2 separate regions of the Homo sapiens genome follow, and region 1 is linked to region 2. The links come from fine-mapping of genetic effects on gene expression. Tissue or cell type: whole blood. Region 2 holds a variant in brackets; the other region holds the start of a gene. All regions are shown on one strand. Distances are between the middles of the regions.

Region 1 (8,466 bases), 29 kb after region 2:
AAAAAAACTCTAATACCAAAATAATCCAATACAATTTTATTCCAGTAATCTCATGAAAACTTTATCCTTCCCCTTACCTTATGAAATAGACTATACTAATTAATTCTATATCACAGCCTAATAGTTACATAATTAGATTCTAATGACCCATGGGTTAACTTCCTAAAAAGTTAAAGACCGACTTGCAATTGAGAACCTGTTACAGGAATTCATTAGTTGCCAGGAAATATCCAGCTCTGAGATCTGTTGCTTTTGCTACTTTAAAAATGTTTATTTACTGGCCTGGCACAGTGGCTCATGCCTATAATCCCAGCACTTTGGGAGGCCGAGGTGGGCGGATCAAGACCAGCCTGGACAACACGATGAAATCCCGTCTCTGCTAAAAATACAAAAATTAGCTGGGCGTGATGACACACATCTGTAATCCCAGCTACTCAGGAGCCTGAGACAGGAGGACCGCTTTAACCTGGGAGGTGGCGGTTGCAGTGAGCTGAGATCACGCCATTGCACTCCAGCCTGGGCGACAGAGCGAGACTCTGTCTCAAAAAAAATGAATTTTATGTATTAAATATGTATCAGAATAAAACCCCAAGGGACAGTCAAATGTCAAAAATAACGAATGAAAAAAGATCTATAACAAACTACATCCATATTCAAAACATCACAGATAAAGATCCTAAATCTTCTGGAGAGAAAGAAAATGTTACTCACAAAGATATCTCATCAGCCAAACACACTGCTAGAAGACAAAAGTAAACCATCTTCAAAGTTCTGGGAAATTATTTTGCTCCTAGAATTCTATGCTAAGCCAAACTCTTAAACAATCTATCAGTATAATAAGGATATTCTTAGGGCATACAGTTTTCTTCCCACATATACTCTTGTCTAAAAAGGTATGCGACAGGCCAGGCATGGTAGCTCGCACCTGTAGTCCCAGCACTTTGGGAAGCCAAGGCAAGAGCGTTGCTTGAGCCTGGGAGGTTTAGGCTGCAGTGAGCTGTGAGCGTGTCACTGCACTCCAACTTGGGTGAAAGAGCAAGACTCTGAAGAAAGGAAAGGAGAGGAAAGGAAAGGGGGGGAGGGGAGGAAAGGGGAGGGGAGGAAAGGGGAGGGGAGGGGAGGAAAGGAAAGGGGAGGGGGGAGGGGAGAGGGGAGGGGAGAGGAGGAGAAGGGAGGGGAAAGGGGAGGGCAGGGGAAAGGGGAGGGGAGAGGAAGGGAGGGGAAAGGGGAGGGGGGAGGGGAGAGGAAAGTGGGGGGAGGGGATACTCCACTGGAAAAAGCATGGAGATTTCAAAAAAGAGGGAGACACTTGATCCAAGAAACAGTAGGCCTAACCCAGAAGCACAATGAGAAAGAATTCCCAGATCATAGCTCTGTGCATGTCTAGAAAACAATTTGTCCTGATGAGAACATAAAGTCAGTGAGCTCTGGGAAGAATTTAAGAGAATTTCATTAAACAGGTAATATGACACTAATAAGCTAGAAGACATCATAAGGTTTAAAAATTTAAAACAGCTTATGTTCTTTTTTGCCAAAACTAAAAAAACAGGGCAAATAGGGCCATTTATGAAAGACATGGTCCAAATGATAAGCAAACTTCATTGTGGTACATTAACTGAATGTAACAAAAGATGACCCCTTTGACCCTGACACCAGAAACATTGTTCCCTGAGTAGAGTGAGCTTAGAATACAGGACTCCATTGTATCTATTGGTCCAATCTGACTATTTGGTTCTGCAATGAAAACGTATATAACCATGATGTTATAGTGTTTATTGGTTTTCATTTTTAAAATCAACCTATAAACAAATCACGGACAATGTAAGTTACAGAGTAACTTAAAGAAATGTAAAGAGAATAGCATAGAAGATGACAGGGTCAGGAAATTAGTGGGTTTAGGGAGAAATGGGGAGTGCAGGGCAGTAGCTTCTTAATCTTAACTAGGGGAAAGTTAAAAAATACTATCTAAGGTTGGCCTAGCGCGGTGGCTCACGCCTGTAATCCCAGCACTTTGGGAGGCCAAGGCGGGCGGATCACCGGAGGTCAGGAGTTCGAGACCAGCCTGACCAACATGGAGAAACCCCATCCCTACTAAAAATACAAAAATTAGCCAGGCATAGTGGCACCTGCCTGTAATCCCAGCTACTCGGGAGGCTGAGGCAGGAGAATCGCTGGAACCCAGGAGTTGGAGGTTGCGGTGAGTAGAGATCGTGCCACTGTACTCCAGCCTGGGCGACAAGGGGAATTATCTTTAAAAAAAAAAAAAAAAAAAGGCCGGGTGCAGTGGCTCACGAAGTCAGGAGATCAAGACCATCCTGGCCAACACGGTGAAACCTCATCTCTACTAAAAATACAAAAATCAGCTGGGCTTGGTGGCGGACATCTGTAATCCCACCTACTCGGGAGACTGAGGCAGGAGAATCTCTTGAACCCTGGAGTCGGAGGTTGCAGTAAGCCAAGTTCGTGCCATTGCATTCCAGCCTGGTGACAGAGTGAGACTCCATCTCAAAAAAAAAAAAAAAACAAAAACCTAAGGTTTATATAACATAAAATACAAATTAAGGAGTATTATTCAACACATAAAGGTAAGTGATGGGGAAAAAATAATAGGAGTGAAGGTAGAAGAAAATGTATGCAAATTAAATTCCTCATCTTTCAGTGGGGAATCAATAGATAAGAATAATACAGTAATATCTAACATTTATTGAGTGTTAATGAAAGCAGGCACTGGTCTATGCACTTTTACACATAATATCTCACTTAACCTTCTTAAACACCCTATAATGTTGCTATTATTATTGTGCCCATTGAATGAATTAGGAAACAAGACATGTTAAGTGAGTTTGCCAAGGTCATACAAGTAAATACAAAATCCTGAATTCAAACTCAAGCACCCAGGCTGCACTCTCTCAACCTCTTAAACTGTGACAAGTCATATTTAAACTTAAGTCAGCTAAAATTTAATAAACTTTTAAATATGTCTCCTCAGCCACCCCGGCCCCGCAGCAGGGGCCGAGGCCGCCTCCAGGCCGGGCGCGAGGAGACGGGCCGCGGCGGCGACCCCAGGCCTGAGGCTGCACAGACCGCCTCTCCCGACCGCCGGGAGCCCGGCGTCCTGCCATCCCTCGCGCCGACGGCCAGCCGCGCCTCCGTTTCCCTTCCTGCCTCGGAGGCACCGCGGCTCCTCCGGGAAGCCCCGGCCCGGCCGAGAGAACCGCTGCGCAAAGGGAGGGCGGCGGCGGCGCTGCTAGCGGCGCCCGAAGGAGTCCGCGAAGCTCGACCACCCCTCGCCCAGACCCAGCGCCGCACCGACCTTCCCGGGCTCCATCGCTTCCCGCAGGCCCGGGCGGCCGCGGTGTCCTCGGCCCCGGCCAGGCGCGGTCCACCCCGAAGAGGCCACCTGTGCCCCGCACCCTTCGGGAGGCGCGTCCCAGCGCCTAGCAACCGACAAGCAGGAGCAGCAGAGGGCCCAGAAGCACTGCCCAGCGTGCCCTGCGGCCTCTCCCAGTGCGCCTGCGCATCCCCGGCATTTTTAGCACCTGGCAGGCAGGAGCAGGGGAAGGCCGAGTGGTCGCTGCTCGGCGTGCCCGCGGCCCCTCCCAATGCGCCTGCGCTTCCCCGGCTCCTAGCAACCGCCAGGCAGGAGCAGCAGAGGACCGAGCGGTCGTTGGTCTCCCCAAGGGGTAGGTGCAGTACCCTGACTTGGGGTGCAGGGGCTCTTGACTCGCCCCAACCCGCCCCGGGTTCCCACGGGACCGGACTGACAGTCGGGGAAGATAGAAAGGGAGAGCAGATATTGAAAAGAGCTTTACGTTTGAGGCCGAGCGCGGTGGCTCACCCCTGTAATCCCAGCACTTTGGGAGGCGGAGGCGGGTGGATCATGAGGTCAGGAGATCGAGACCATCCTGGCTAACACGGTGAAACCCCGTCTCTACTAAAAATACAAAAAAAAAAAATAGCTGGGCGCAGTAGCAGGCGCCTGTAGTCCCAGCTACTCGGGAGGCTGAGGCAGAAGGATGGCGTGAACCTGGGAGACGGAGCTTGCAGTGAGCGGAGATCACGCCACTGCACTCCAACCTGGGCGACAGAGCGAGACTCTGTCTCAAAAAAAAAAAAAAAAAAAAGAAAAGAGCTTTACATTTGAATAAGGCTTTGCACTTAACAAATTATATTCCCATATGTCGTCTTTTGATAAAAACAAGCAGTAAGGTAGGCAGGAATCAACGTTGAGAGACTGTTTTTATACAACACGTAAGGGAAAATCAAAAACTCTCAGGACCTCCGAACTCCTTCAGCCAAAGGGAAAGTTAGGGCTGAAAGCCTGAAACCGCCTTTTCAAAATTATGACTGAGGCAGTAAAAGAGGTGTAACTTAACCCACAGCATCTTGCTTCTGACCTCCAAGCTGTGCTTGTTCCTTCCTGGCAGTAGGCTGAACTAACTTTGGGAGAAACTTAGTTTATATTTTATAATTTAAACACAGACGGTAACAGCCCTTTCCCAAAGCAGGCCTTCTTGCCTGGGGACTTGATTGCCTTTGTAGGACTGATGTTAGCCACAAGATTAGAAATTACGTTTTAGGAGTAGTTTCTAATATGCAGCTGGAGGCTACAATATTCTGACCCTCCCTAAACTGCTCCTAAGATCAGTGCTTGAGATATTTTGCAGAACCTGCACTTGATGGATCAGCTGGCACCACCCAGATCAATAAACTGGCTCATCAGATCTTGTGGCCCCTCACCCAGGAACTGATAAGGGCAAGAAGACCGCTTTGACTCCCTATGATTTCATCTCTGACCAATCAGCACTCCTGGCTCACTGGCTTCCCCCCACCCAAGTTATCCTTGAAAACTCTGATCCCTGAATGCTTCAATGCTCAAGGAGATGGATTTGAGTAATAATAAAACTCTAGTCTCCTGCACAGCCAGCTCTGTGTAAATTACTCTTTCTCTATTGCAATTCCCCCATCTCGATAGGCTCTGTCTAGGCAGCGGGCAAGGTGAACCCCTTGGGTGGTTGCAAGCCGAGTCGCCCAACACCCTCTTCCAAATGCACAGCTGTTGCTTTGCAGGCTGCAAGGCTCCTGCCAGCCAGGCCCCCGTGAAGGCAGGGCCGGGCACCTTGGCCCCCACCAGTCTCCCAGGTGTAAATGTTTTGCCAGCCTGGAGACCTTTCAAGATGTGTGTCCTCACTTAAACAAAGACACGCCAATTGTAACTTTAGATCTGCAACTTAAGTCTGAAACTACCTCTGCAAGAATTAGAACTGAGAAAATTATGACAGTGAAAGAGATCTAACCTGACTCCATCTTGCTTCTAACCTCCAAGCTGTCCTTGTCCATTCCTGGTCGTAGAATAGTTTAACTTTGAAAGAAAGATAACAGCCCTTTCCCAAAACAAACCCCCTTCTCTTTTTTTATTATTATTATACTTTAAGTTCTGGGGTACATGTGCAGAACGTGCAGGTTTGTTACATAGGTATACACATGCCACGGTGGTTTGCGACACCCATCAACCCGTCATCTACATTAGGTATTTCTCCTAATGCTATCCCCCAGCCCCCCCCGACAGACCCCCACGTGTGATGTTCCTCTCCCTGTGTCCATGTGTTCTCATTGTTCAACTCCCACTTATGAGTGAGAACATGCGGTGTTTGGTTTTCTGTTCTTGTGATAGTTTGCTGAGAATGATGCAAACCCTCTTCTTGCTGGGGACTAGATGGCCTTTGGAGGACTAACAAATTAGCCATGAGATTAGAAATTATGGTTTAGGAGTCATGCAGCTAAAGGCCACAAGATTCTAAACCTCCTCAATTACTCCTAGGGATAATATCACTATTGTAAAACCTAAGATTGGTGCTTGAGACATTTTTCAGTCCCTTCACTCAATGGGTCGGCTGGTGCAACCCAGATGGATAAACTGGCTCATCTGGTCTTGTGACCCCCACTTAGGAACTGACTCAGCGCAAGAAGACAGCTTGGATTCCCTGATTTCATCTCCAATCCTACCAATCAGCACTCCCCACTTCTCAACGCCCCCCCACCCACTAAATTATCCTTCAAACTCCAATCCTCAAATTTTGGGGGACACTGATTTGAGCAATAATAAAACTCCACTGGGCATGGTGGCTCATGCCTGTAATCCCAGCACTTTGGGAGGCTGAGGCAGGCAGATCACCTGAGGTCGGGAGTTTGAGACCAGCCTGACCAACATGGAGAAAGCCCGTCTCTACTAAAAATACAAAATTAGCTGGGTGTGGTGGTACATGCCTGTAATCCCAGCTACTTGGGGGCTGAGGCAGGAGACTCTCTTGAACCCAGGAGTGGGAGGTTGCAGTGAGCCAAGATCGCGCCACTGCACTCCAGCCTGGGCAACAAGAGCAAAACTCCATCTAAAAAAAAAAAAAAAAACCTCTGGTCTCCCATACAGCCGGCTCTGCGTGAATTAAATTCTTTCTCTATTGCAATTTCCTATCTAGATAAATCATCTCTGTCTGAGCAGCCGGCAAGGAGAACCTGTTGGGCGGTTACAAGTCCAGCTCATAAAAACTAAGGTCTAAAACGAAAGACTGTTCAACTTCACACTGATAATGACCAAGAAAACCTTGGTCACCCCATGCAGATGAGGCCTCCAGGTAGCAGGCTTCAGAGAGAATCGACTGTAAATGCTTCTTACCAGACTTAAAGAAGCCTGTTCCATCCGTGATTCCAAAAGGGAGGAGGGTATCATGAGGCATGTCCATCTCCCTCTTCCCATCATGTCCTGAACTACTTCTTCAGGTTAAGTTTGGAATGCCCTTGGCCAAGGAGGAGTGGTCCATTCAGATGGTTGGGGGTCTTACAATTTTATTTTTGGTTTACATCCTCCCCTTGTGGCCAACATTTGTCAGAGGCAACACCAGTGGCCACCAAGCTTTTGTTTTGTTCCATAGCATTGCCAGGGTGACATGGCTGCCTGCCCTGGATCTGTCCTGTCTCTCAGCGGGACACCCTATGGCCAAGAGACTTAGAGTCAAAAGACTTGTAGCCAATTAAAATGTTCTAGGCCAAATGGGAATGGACACAGACAAGCATTCATTAACCCTTAAAAATTTAAGTAAAAAGCCAACAAACAAAAAGCCAAGGGCGAGGTTACAAACCTGACTGAGCTACTGTAATCTTGGTTTTAGTTACAGACTTATAGCAATTAGCTATACAGAACATAAGCATTGTTAAAACCTTTTAAGCTAAGGATTTTTAGAGACTTTTGTTGTGCTGCAATGCTTTTTATTGTCCTTTAGTAATTTGTCCTAAAATGGCTAATAAAATTTTTTATTTTTATTTTTTTGAGACGAAGTCTCGCTCTTGTCCCCCAGGCTAGAATGCAATGGCGCGATCTCAGCTCACTGCAACCTCCGCCTCCAGGGTTCAAGCAATTCTCCTGCCTCAGCCTCCTGACTGGCTGGGACTGCAGGCACCTCCCACCACGCCTGGCTAATTTTTGTATTTTTGGTAGACACGGGGTTTCACCATGTTGGCCAGGCTGGTCTCGAACTCCTGACCTTGTGATCTGCCCACCTTGGCCTCCCAAAGTGCTAGGATTACAGGCGTGAGCCACCATGCCCAGCCGGTCTGAACTAATTCTCTCCCTCAAAACCAGCGCTTACAGGCCGGGCGCGGTGGCTCATGCCTGTAATCCCAACACTTTGAGAGGCCAAGGCGGGCGGATCACAGGGTCAGGAATTCAAGACTAGCCTGGCCAACATGGTAAAACCCCGTCTCTACCAAAAATACAAACATTAGCCAGGCATGGTGGCAGGCACCTGCAATCCCAGCTACTCAGGAGGCTGAGGCAGGAGAATCGCTTGAAACCAGGAGGCAGAGGTTGCAGTGAGCCAAAATCACACCACTGCACTCCAGACAACAAGAGCAAAACTCCATCTAAGAAAAAAAAAAACAGCCCTTAGAATCTCAGGCGCCCAGCTCTTCTGCTATGGTCCCTGGCCCTAGAGGGAGGGTGCCTGTGTAGGGTTAGCAGGGCACTGGCCATGAAAACAGATCAGGCACAGTGGAATGCCCGAGTGCCAATGCCACATCTTTTTAGAATTCCGTGATTCTGGTTTCCTTGGAAGTAAAACAAGAAGAGATAAATAACATTAATAATTTGATAATCAGAATAGTATTTGTGTGTCAGAACAGAAGAAAGAACCTATTCTGCTGGGGCACCAACTATAAATATGAATCAAAATTGTAGCCTGGTGCTCTTTAGAGGATTCTTGCAGCCCAGAGATGATTCATGATTCAATCTGCACTCAAAAACAGAAGTCAGGACAGTCATCAGTAACAAGTGTTACACTTTTCCTTTGACTCAGTTTCTCTCTAGCCCTCCTTTTCTAATAAAGAGACATTATAATAAGATCAACTTGTGTGGAAAATACGTTTTAGTCTTATTATAGTTGGCCTGATGATTTGCATAAAGTGCAGCAAGAA
Region 2 (8,000 bases):
AGGCTGAGGCAGGAGAATGGCGTGAACCCGGGAGGCAGAGCTTGCAGTGAGCCAAGATCGCGCCACTGCGCTCCAGCCTGGGTGACAAAGCGAGACCCCATGTCAAAAAAAAAAAAAAAAAAGAAAAACAGGAGGGGTGTGTGTGTGTGTGTGTGTGTGTGTGTGTAAATGTTTAAAACTGGCTTCCAAACTCCTAAATATACATACCAATATATGATTATAAAAGATTATATGAGAAGAAATATTTGTAGGTATTTTTTTCTGTGGTAAATGTGTGGCTATAGCCAGATAATAAGCAATCCAACCACCACCACCAAAATTAAAGAAATAAAACATCCACGTCAAAACAACAGGTGCTGTATGACCTAATTTATGTAAAATTATGTTTGTGTACGGACATAGAATAAAGCAATTCATAAAAATACTGCACAAAGGCCAAGCGCAGTGGCTCACGCCTGTAATCCCAGCACTTTGGGAGGCCAAAGCAGGTGGATCACCTAAGGTCAGGAGTTCAAGATCAGCCTGGCCAACATGGTGAAACCCTGTCTCTACTAAAAATACAAAAATTAGCTGGGTGTGGTGGCGCATGCCTGTGATCCCAGCTATTCAGGAGGCTGAGGCACGAATCGCTTGAACCCAGGAGGCAGAGGTTGAGGTGAGCTGAGATCACGCCACTGCACTCCAGCCTGGGCAACAGAGTGAGACTCCATCTCAACGTATATATATATATATATGTATGTATGGCACAAAATTGTTAAATATGATTACCTCAGAATCATGGGTTTCAGATAACGATCAAAGAAGAAAAAATTATTCTCCAGAAATAATTCATAGAATCCAAAATATGCTTGCCACATTATCTGTAATAACAAAACAAAAAGGCTGGGTGCGGTGGCTCACGCCTGTAATCCCAGCACTTTGGGAGGCCGAGGTCGGCAGATCATGTGGTCAGGAGTTCCAGACCAGACTGGCCAATATGGTGAAACCCCATCTCTACTATAAATACAAAAATTAGCCGGGCATGGTGGCGCATGCCTATAGTCCCAGCTACTCAGGAGGCTGAGGCAGGAGAATCGCTTGAACCCGGGAGGCGGAGGTTGCAGTGAGCCGAGATCGTGCCACTGCACTCCAGCCTGGGCAACAGAGTGAGACCTGTCTCAAAAAAAAAAAAAAAAAAAAAAAAGGACAATGGTTTGATAATAACCCTAACTCCACAGTGTGCTATTTTAGAGTCACTAAGTAATCATTACAAAGCCTACTCTTATGATCCTAATGGAGACAGTGAAGATAATGAAGACTGTGGAGAAACGCTGATGTACTAATTGACAAGCTCAGCACAGGGTACAATTCTCCCTGTGCATAAATACATGTCACAAGGTAGCTTAACACATGGAAACAATTATGCAAGGAGAGGGATGATGATTGTGTGTTAGTAACAAGTGTCTATTAATAACATGTGCTTGGTAGAATTTGCCAGAGAAGCCATCAGAGCCTGAGCGACTTTGTGGGGAGATCTGTAACACAAACGCAATGTCTTGACTCACTATAGGTCTATTCAGGCTACTGCTTCCAGCAGTTTTAGTAACTGATAGTCTCTAGGAATTTGTCCTTTCATCTAAATTACCTAATTTGTTACCATAAAATATTGTCCTACCTGTTACTGAAAGTGGGGTGCTAAAGTTACTATTATTATTAATTGTCTCTTTCTCCCTTCAATTCTGTCAGTTTTTGCTGCTTGTGTTTTGGGACCCTCTTGTTAGGTAAATATCCATTTACAATTGTTTTATCGCCTTCTGCTGAACCAATTATTTGCTCATTCTGAATTGTCTCTCTCTAGTAACACTTTCTGTCTCAAAATCTGTTTTATCTGATACTAGTGTAGCCAATCCAGCCCTCTCATAGCTGCTGTCTGATAGATTCTCTTTGTCCACCTTTTTACTTTCAATCAATTTGCATCTTCTAACCTAAAGTGAGTCTCCAGTGTGCCTTCTGGGATCACCACTCGAATAAACCATCTGCAAATGAGCCCTGTCTCGGCCTCTGGTTTCAAGGGGAAGCCCAAAGTAAGATTATGGTTAATCTCAATGTACCATAAAATCAATGTATTCTCAGTGGAGACTGCCTTACCTTCCGTCTTGAATCTTTATCTTTTCCATGATTCCTTACTAAATTCTCAGCATGCCTGGAAAGCAAACATAATCAAAATCAAAACTTACTTTAAATGAGAGCTTTTAAAAAATAAAACATTTTCCATATCAGTGAAAGCTCTTAACAATATTTTGATATGATTAAGAACTACTACAACCAGGAGCGATGACTTGCACCTGTAATCCCAGCTATTTGGGAGATTGAGGCAGGAGGACCACTTGAGGCCAGGAGTTCGGGACCAGCCTGGGCAACAGAGTAGACCCCATCTCTACAAAAATAAAAAATTAGCCTGGCATGGTGGCACATGCCTGTAGTCTCAGCTACTTGGGAGGCTGAGGCAGGAGGTTTGCTTGAGCCCAGGAGTTTGAAGCTGCAGTGAGCCATGATTGTGCCACTGCACTACAGCCTGGGCGACAGAGAAAGACCCTTTCTCAAAAAATAATTTTTTTAAAAAACTGTTTCAGGTTAGCAAAGCATGTTTTATTAGAGCAATAAATGTTAAAGTCTTCCTAGCATTCTTACTATTTTAGCAATAATTCAAGACAGAAAATATCTTCCAGAGAAGAAATTATGTGTTTTAACAAACTTGTGAGTGCAAATCTACATCCTTTACAAGTTCTCGGCCGGGCGCAGTGGCTCACACCTGTAATCCCAGCACTTTGGGAGGCCAAGGTGGGCAGACTGCCTGAGGTCAGGAGTTCGAGACCAGTCTGGCCAACATGGAGAAACCCCATCTCTACTAAAAATACAAAAAAATTAGCCAGGCGTGGTGGCGTGTGCCTGTAATCCCAGCTACTCAGGAGGCTGAGGCAGGGGAATTTGCTTGAACCAGGGAGGTAGAGGTTACAGTGGGCCGAGATCATGCCACTGCACTTCAGCCTGGCGACAGAGCAAGACTCCATCACAAAACAAAAAATAAAAAGAGTTGTAGAAATTTTCTATAATTTTATTGGTCTATCTGAAATACTATTTTATATTAAATATAAAAGATATATATAAAATATAAATATGTTATATAATATGTAATATAAAATAAAAATATAAAATCTTTCTAAAAGAAAGATTTATCTTGAAATGTTTTATATTTTAATCACATTTCATGTTAGGACCTAAAATAAAGATTTGCAAAATATCAAACTGATTCTCAATTTTTAAACTTTCATTCATATCAATATACCATGCGGTTTAACAAAAATACAGAATTGAGCAAAAAAAGTCTTATTGTGCCTTCTAGTGGACATGCAGTATAAAATCCAGGAA[T/C]TGACACCCTAGGTTTAAGTGTTAGCTTTGCCCAAACTTGTAAAAATTTGGGTAAGATATTTAACCTGGGTTTTCTAATCTTTGAAAAACGATTACAAAATATGATTGTCAGAAAGAACAAATTAAAGTCTAGGGCTTACATATGAGAGTTTAGGCCAGGCACAGTGGCTCACGCCTGTAATCCCAGCACTTTGGGAGGCCAAGGCAGGTGGATGACTTGAGGCCAGGAGTTCAAGACCAGCCTGGCCAACATGGTGAAACTCCATCTCTACCAAAAATACAAAAATTAGCTGGGTGTGGTGGTATGTGCCTGTAGTTCCAGCTACTTGGGAGGCTGAGGCAGAAGAATAGCTTGAACCTGGGAGGCGGAGGTTGCAGTGAGCCGAGATTGCGCCACTGCACTCCAGGCTCGGCAACAAAGTGAGACTCTGTCTCAAAAAAAAAAAAAAGAGTTTATACATAAACTCCAATTATGTATTGCAAAACCCACACGAGACAGGAATTATCATCACTGCTTTAGCGAAAAGCCACCCAACACTGCAACTAAGAGGTAGACAGGAAATTCCAACCAAGGCTGACCCCCACCCCCAGCTCTGGGGGTCTCTGCCAAGGCCTGAGGGCGGAATGTTATCCCGTGTGTTCACAAGTGATAAACAGTGGGCAGAGGGGGACTCGCCGGCACGTCCTGTTTTTAGTGGCTGTGAACCAGAATGGTTTGCTCAGGTGCGTAAAGGTGCAAAACTGCCCACCTGCGGATTTGCTTTAGCTTCAGGCAGGGAGGACTCCCTCTTGCACATTAAGTGACTCCCAAGTGAATTATTCTCCCCAAAGTGAGTACCAATTTTCTAATTTTGCATGAGCAAATGTTAAAAAGGACAAAAGTAGATCCTGAGGCAATAAATACAAACAATAATATTAAAATGAAAAAATTAAAATATAATTAATTTAAAAGGCCAAAGAAAGCTAATAATATATTAAGTTTCCAAGCTCCTCCAGTATTCCAAAAACCTACCAACCCATTTGGAGGGGCTAAGGGGTAAAATCTAGAGAAAATGAAGTATATCTATAACTGATTGCCATGGACTGGCCGTCATCGGAGCCAATAAGAAAATTCCCTGAAGCATTCCATGAGAGCGGCACACGTAAAGGTCGACCACAGGGCATGCAATCCTTACTGGCTGCTGGTCCCATCTCTTTTTGAGCTTGCACCTCGATTTCTGTGTTCACCATTCTATCAAACAAAAATATAATCCCATAACCATTTATTAGCATATCGGAATGAAGTAAGCATAATTAGTAAACCCCACAAAACAAGCACAGATTCAAAATTTAACAACAGCATGTACATCACAAGTACCTTTTAAAATAACTATTTTTACCAGTTATTTTTAGTAAATTAGATAATTAAATGTAAAGAAAATGGATAAAAGTATATATAAAAGGGTGATTATGCTGGGCACGGTGGCTCACGCCTGTGATCCCAGCACTTTGGGAGGCCAAGGCGGGCGCATCACCTGAGGTCGGGAGTTATAGACGAGCCTGACCAACACGGAGAAACCCCGTCTCTACTAAAAATACAAAAATTAGCCGGGCGTGGTGGCGGGCGCCTGTAGTCCCAGCTACTCGGGAGGCTGAGGCAGGAGAATGGCGTGAACCCGGGAGGCGGAGCTTGCAATGAGCAGAGATTGCGCCACTGCACTCCAGCCTGGGCGACAGAGCGAGACTCCATCTCAAAAAAAAAAAAAAAATTGTTTTTTAAAAGGATAAAGGTGTGGCAGATAGGATAACAACGAGATGAGGCCACTGGATTCTTCTATTAAAGAAGTCACTGGGCCGGGCGCGGTGGCTCACGCTTGTAATCCCAGCACTTTGGGAGGCCGAGGCGGGCGGATCACGAGGTCAGGAGATCGAGACCATCCTGGCTAACACGGTGAAACTCCGTCTCTACTAAAAATACAAAAAAATTAGCCGGGTGTGGTGGCGGGCGCCTGTAGTCCCAGCTACTCGGGAGGCTGAGGCAGGAGAATGGCGTGAACCCGGGAGGCGGAGCTTGCAGTGAGCCGAGATTGCGCCAATGCACTCCAGCCTGGGCAACAGAGCAAGACTCCGTCTCAAAAAAAAAAAAAAAAAAAAAAAGAAGTCACTGGTCAGGAAGCTTAGAACATTTTGTATATTTATTGTACTTACTCATACTCTATCTCAAATTGATAACTGGAGGAAGCTTACAATAAAAGTTATATCATTCTAATTAAAATCATGGATCAAAAATCATATAGAGGCCAGGCACCATGACTCACACCTGTAACACTTGGCCTTGGTAGGCCAAGGCAGGAGGATCACCTGAGGTCAGGAGCTCGAGGCCAGCCTGGCCAACATGGCGAAACTCTACTAAAAATACAAAAAAAAAAAAAATAATAATAAGCCAGATGCACACCTGTAATCCCAGCCACTCGGGAGGCTGAGGCAGGAGAATCACTTGAACCCAGGAGGCGGAGGCTGCAGTGAGCCAAGATCACACCACTGCTCTCTGGCCTGGGCGATACAGTGAGACTCAATCTCAAAAAAAAAAAAAAAAAGAAGAAGAAAAAATATCATATAGAGAAAGTGAGAGAGAATCACAGAGAACATCCATCCCCGGGAACAGTCCCAGTTTCTATCTGTTGTCCTGGCGTAATTATTAGCAGTGCACCTTGCACTTTACGGTAACCACAGGATAATTACATCAAGCAGTAGGTTCAGAGTACTCAGTTGAAGAATATCTAAAATTGATACTAATTTTGAGTATCAAAAGTACTCAAAAGTTTTGAATTTCTGAAAGTCAACGCAAAGGAAAAAATCTTTAATTATACAATGCTCGATCCCCATTCCTGATATTGTATCGTGTATCTGTTCATTTCTTTTCCTTTTTTTTTTTTTTTTGAGACAAAGGCTCACTCTGTCCTCCAGTCTGGAGTGCAGTGGCACGATCTCAGTTCACCGTAACCTCTTCCTCCCAGGTTCAAGCAATTCTCCTGCCTCAGCCTCCCAAGTAGCTGGGATTACAGGCACGTGCCACCATACTTGGCTAATTTTTGTGTATTTTTTAGTAGAGACAGGGTTTCACTATGTTAGCCAGGCTGGTCTCGAACTCCTGACCTCAAGTGATCCACCTGTCTCGGCCTCCCAAAGTGCTAGGATTATAGGTGTGAGCCACCATGCCTGGTCTCTTTTTTAAGACAAGGTCTTACTGTACCACGCAGGTTGGACTGCAGTGATATGATCACAGCTCACTGCAGGCTTGACCTCCTCGGCTCAAGTGATCCTCCCACCTCAGCTTCTGTAGTAGCTGGGACTACAGCTGTGTGCCACCATGCCTGGCTAAATTTTTTTTTTTGGTAGAGATGGGGTCTCACTATATTTCTCAGGCTGGTCTTGAACTCCTGGGCTCAACAGATCCTCCAACCTCAGCCTCCTGAGTAGCTAGGACTCCAGGTGTAAGCCACCACACCTATCTGAGATTTAGGTGGTTTTTTTTTGGTAGTTCTTTATCCTATGGCTTCTCCAACACAACATAAGCACCATAAGAACAGTAATTTTTGTTTTGTTCACAGCTGTATCCTCAGCACCTAGAACAGTGCCCAGCATACAAGCCACTCAGATAGGAACAGCTTGTCTTAAAAAGAAAATGTCAGTCGTCTGAATAATCTTTCTTCTGGGACTAATTTGAAGGCAGTGGTTTTACAAAGATACAGGATAATGTTCTTCATCGACCATTTTTCACATTCACCTTTAATAAAAGCCAAATCTATGTCCAGAAAGGCATTTCTGGGTGGAACTAAGCACATGTAACCTAAGTCACTTCCAGTAATTAAACATGATCTAGGGAATGGAGAATAGCCAAGTTCAATAAAAGGCAAGTAGCGGAGTCTAAGTTATGGGTACAAGAGTGTTCTTTGGAAAATTACGTCGACTTTGCTGTATGTTTGAAAATGTTCGTAACACAACGTTGGGAGAAAATGATGAAGTTTTGATCTAGGGAAAGAGATTTAGAAACAAAAAAAATGGCCGGGCGCGGTAGCTCATGCCTGTAATCCCAGCACTTTGGGAGGCCAAGGCGGGCGGATCATGAGGTCAGGAGATTGAGACCATCCTGGCTAACACGGTGAAACCCCGTCTCTACTAAATATACAAAAAATTAGCCGGGAGTGGTGGCACATGCCTGTAGTCCCAGCTACTCGGGAGGCTGAGGCAGGAGAATGGCGTGAACCTGGGAGGCCAAGGTTGCAGTGAGCCGAGATCGCACCACTGCACTCCAGCCTGGGCGACAGAGCGAGACTCTGTCTCAAAATAAATAAATAAATAAAAATAAATAAAAACAAAAAAAATGAGTATCTGTCCTCAAGGAGCTGCTTCTCAGTGACCGCCTCAACTAACCTTCCGTGTGGCTGACTAGAGGGGAGTCCAGGCTTTCCACACCGTAGACGCGGGTAGCAGAACCGGCACTGCCTCAAACCTGCTAAGAAACACGGCCAACGCCCTGATGCAAACAGAGGGCGTGGGCTGCGGAAGACAGTGGGGTCTCAGTGAGGAAAGGCCCCAGGGCAAAGGCGAGG

What was found.
Region 1: it holds the start of DYNC2I1, and the variant in region 2 is fine-mapped to the expression of DYNC2I1 in whole blood (TOPMed, PIP 0.94).

The regions. Positions count from the first base shown.
Region 1 is chr7:158,851,598-158,860,063 of GRCh38, reverse strand. It overlaps DYNC2I1 (dynein 2 intermediate chain 1), which reads right to left and starts at 3,506. Exons shown (of 25, transcript NM_018051.5): 1 at 3,314-3,506. The coding sequence starts at 3,328. It overlaps LOC124901796 (a long non-coding RNA gene), which reads left to right and starts at 3,542. Exons shown (of 2, transcript XR_007060627.1): 1 at 3,542-3,683; 2 at 4,668-4,926. RefSeq lists an enhancer at 2,089-2,630 and a silencer at 2,981-3,450.
Region 2 is chr7:158,881,203-158,889,202 of GRCh38, reverse strand. DYNC2I1 (dynein 2 intermediate chain 1) reads right to left here. Exons shown (of 25, transcript NM_018051.5): 6 at 4,584-4,639; 7 at 2,128-2,182. Among named protein-coding and RNA genes, the nearest start is that of DYNC2I1, 29 kb to the right of the region's middle. The variant T/C (reference allele first, on the strand shown) is at 3,409.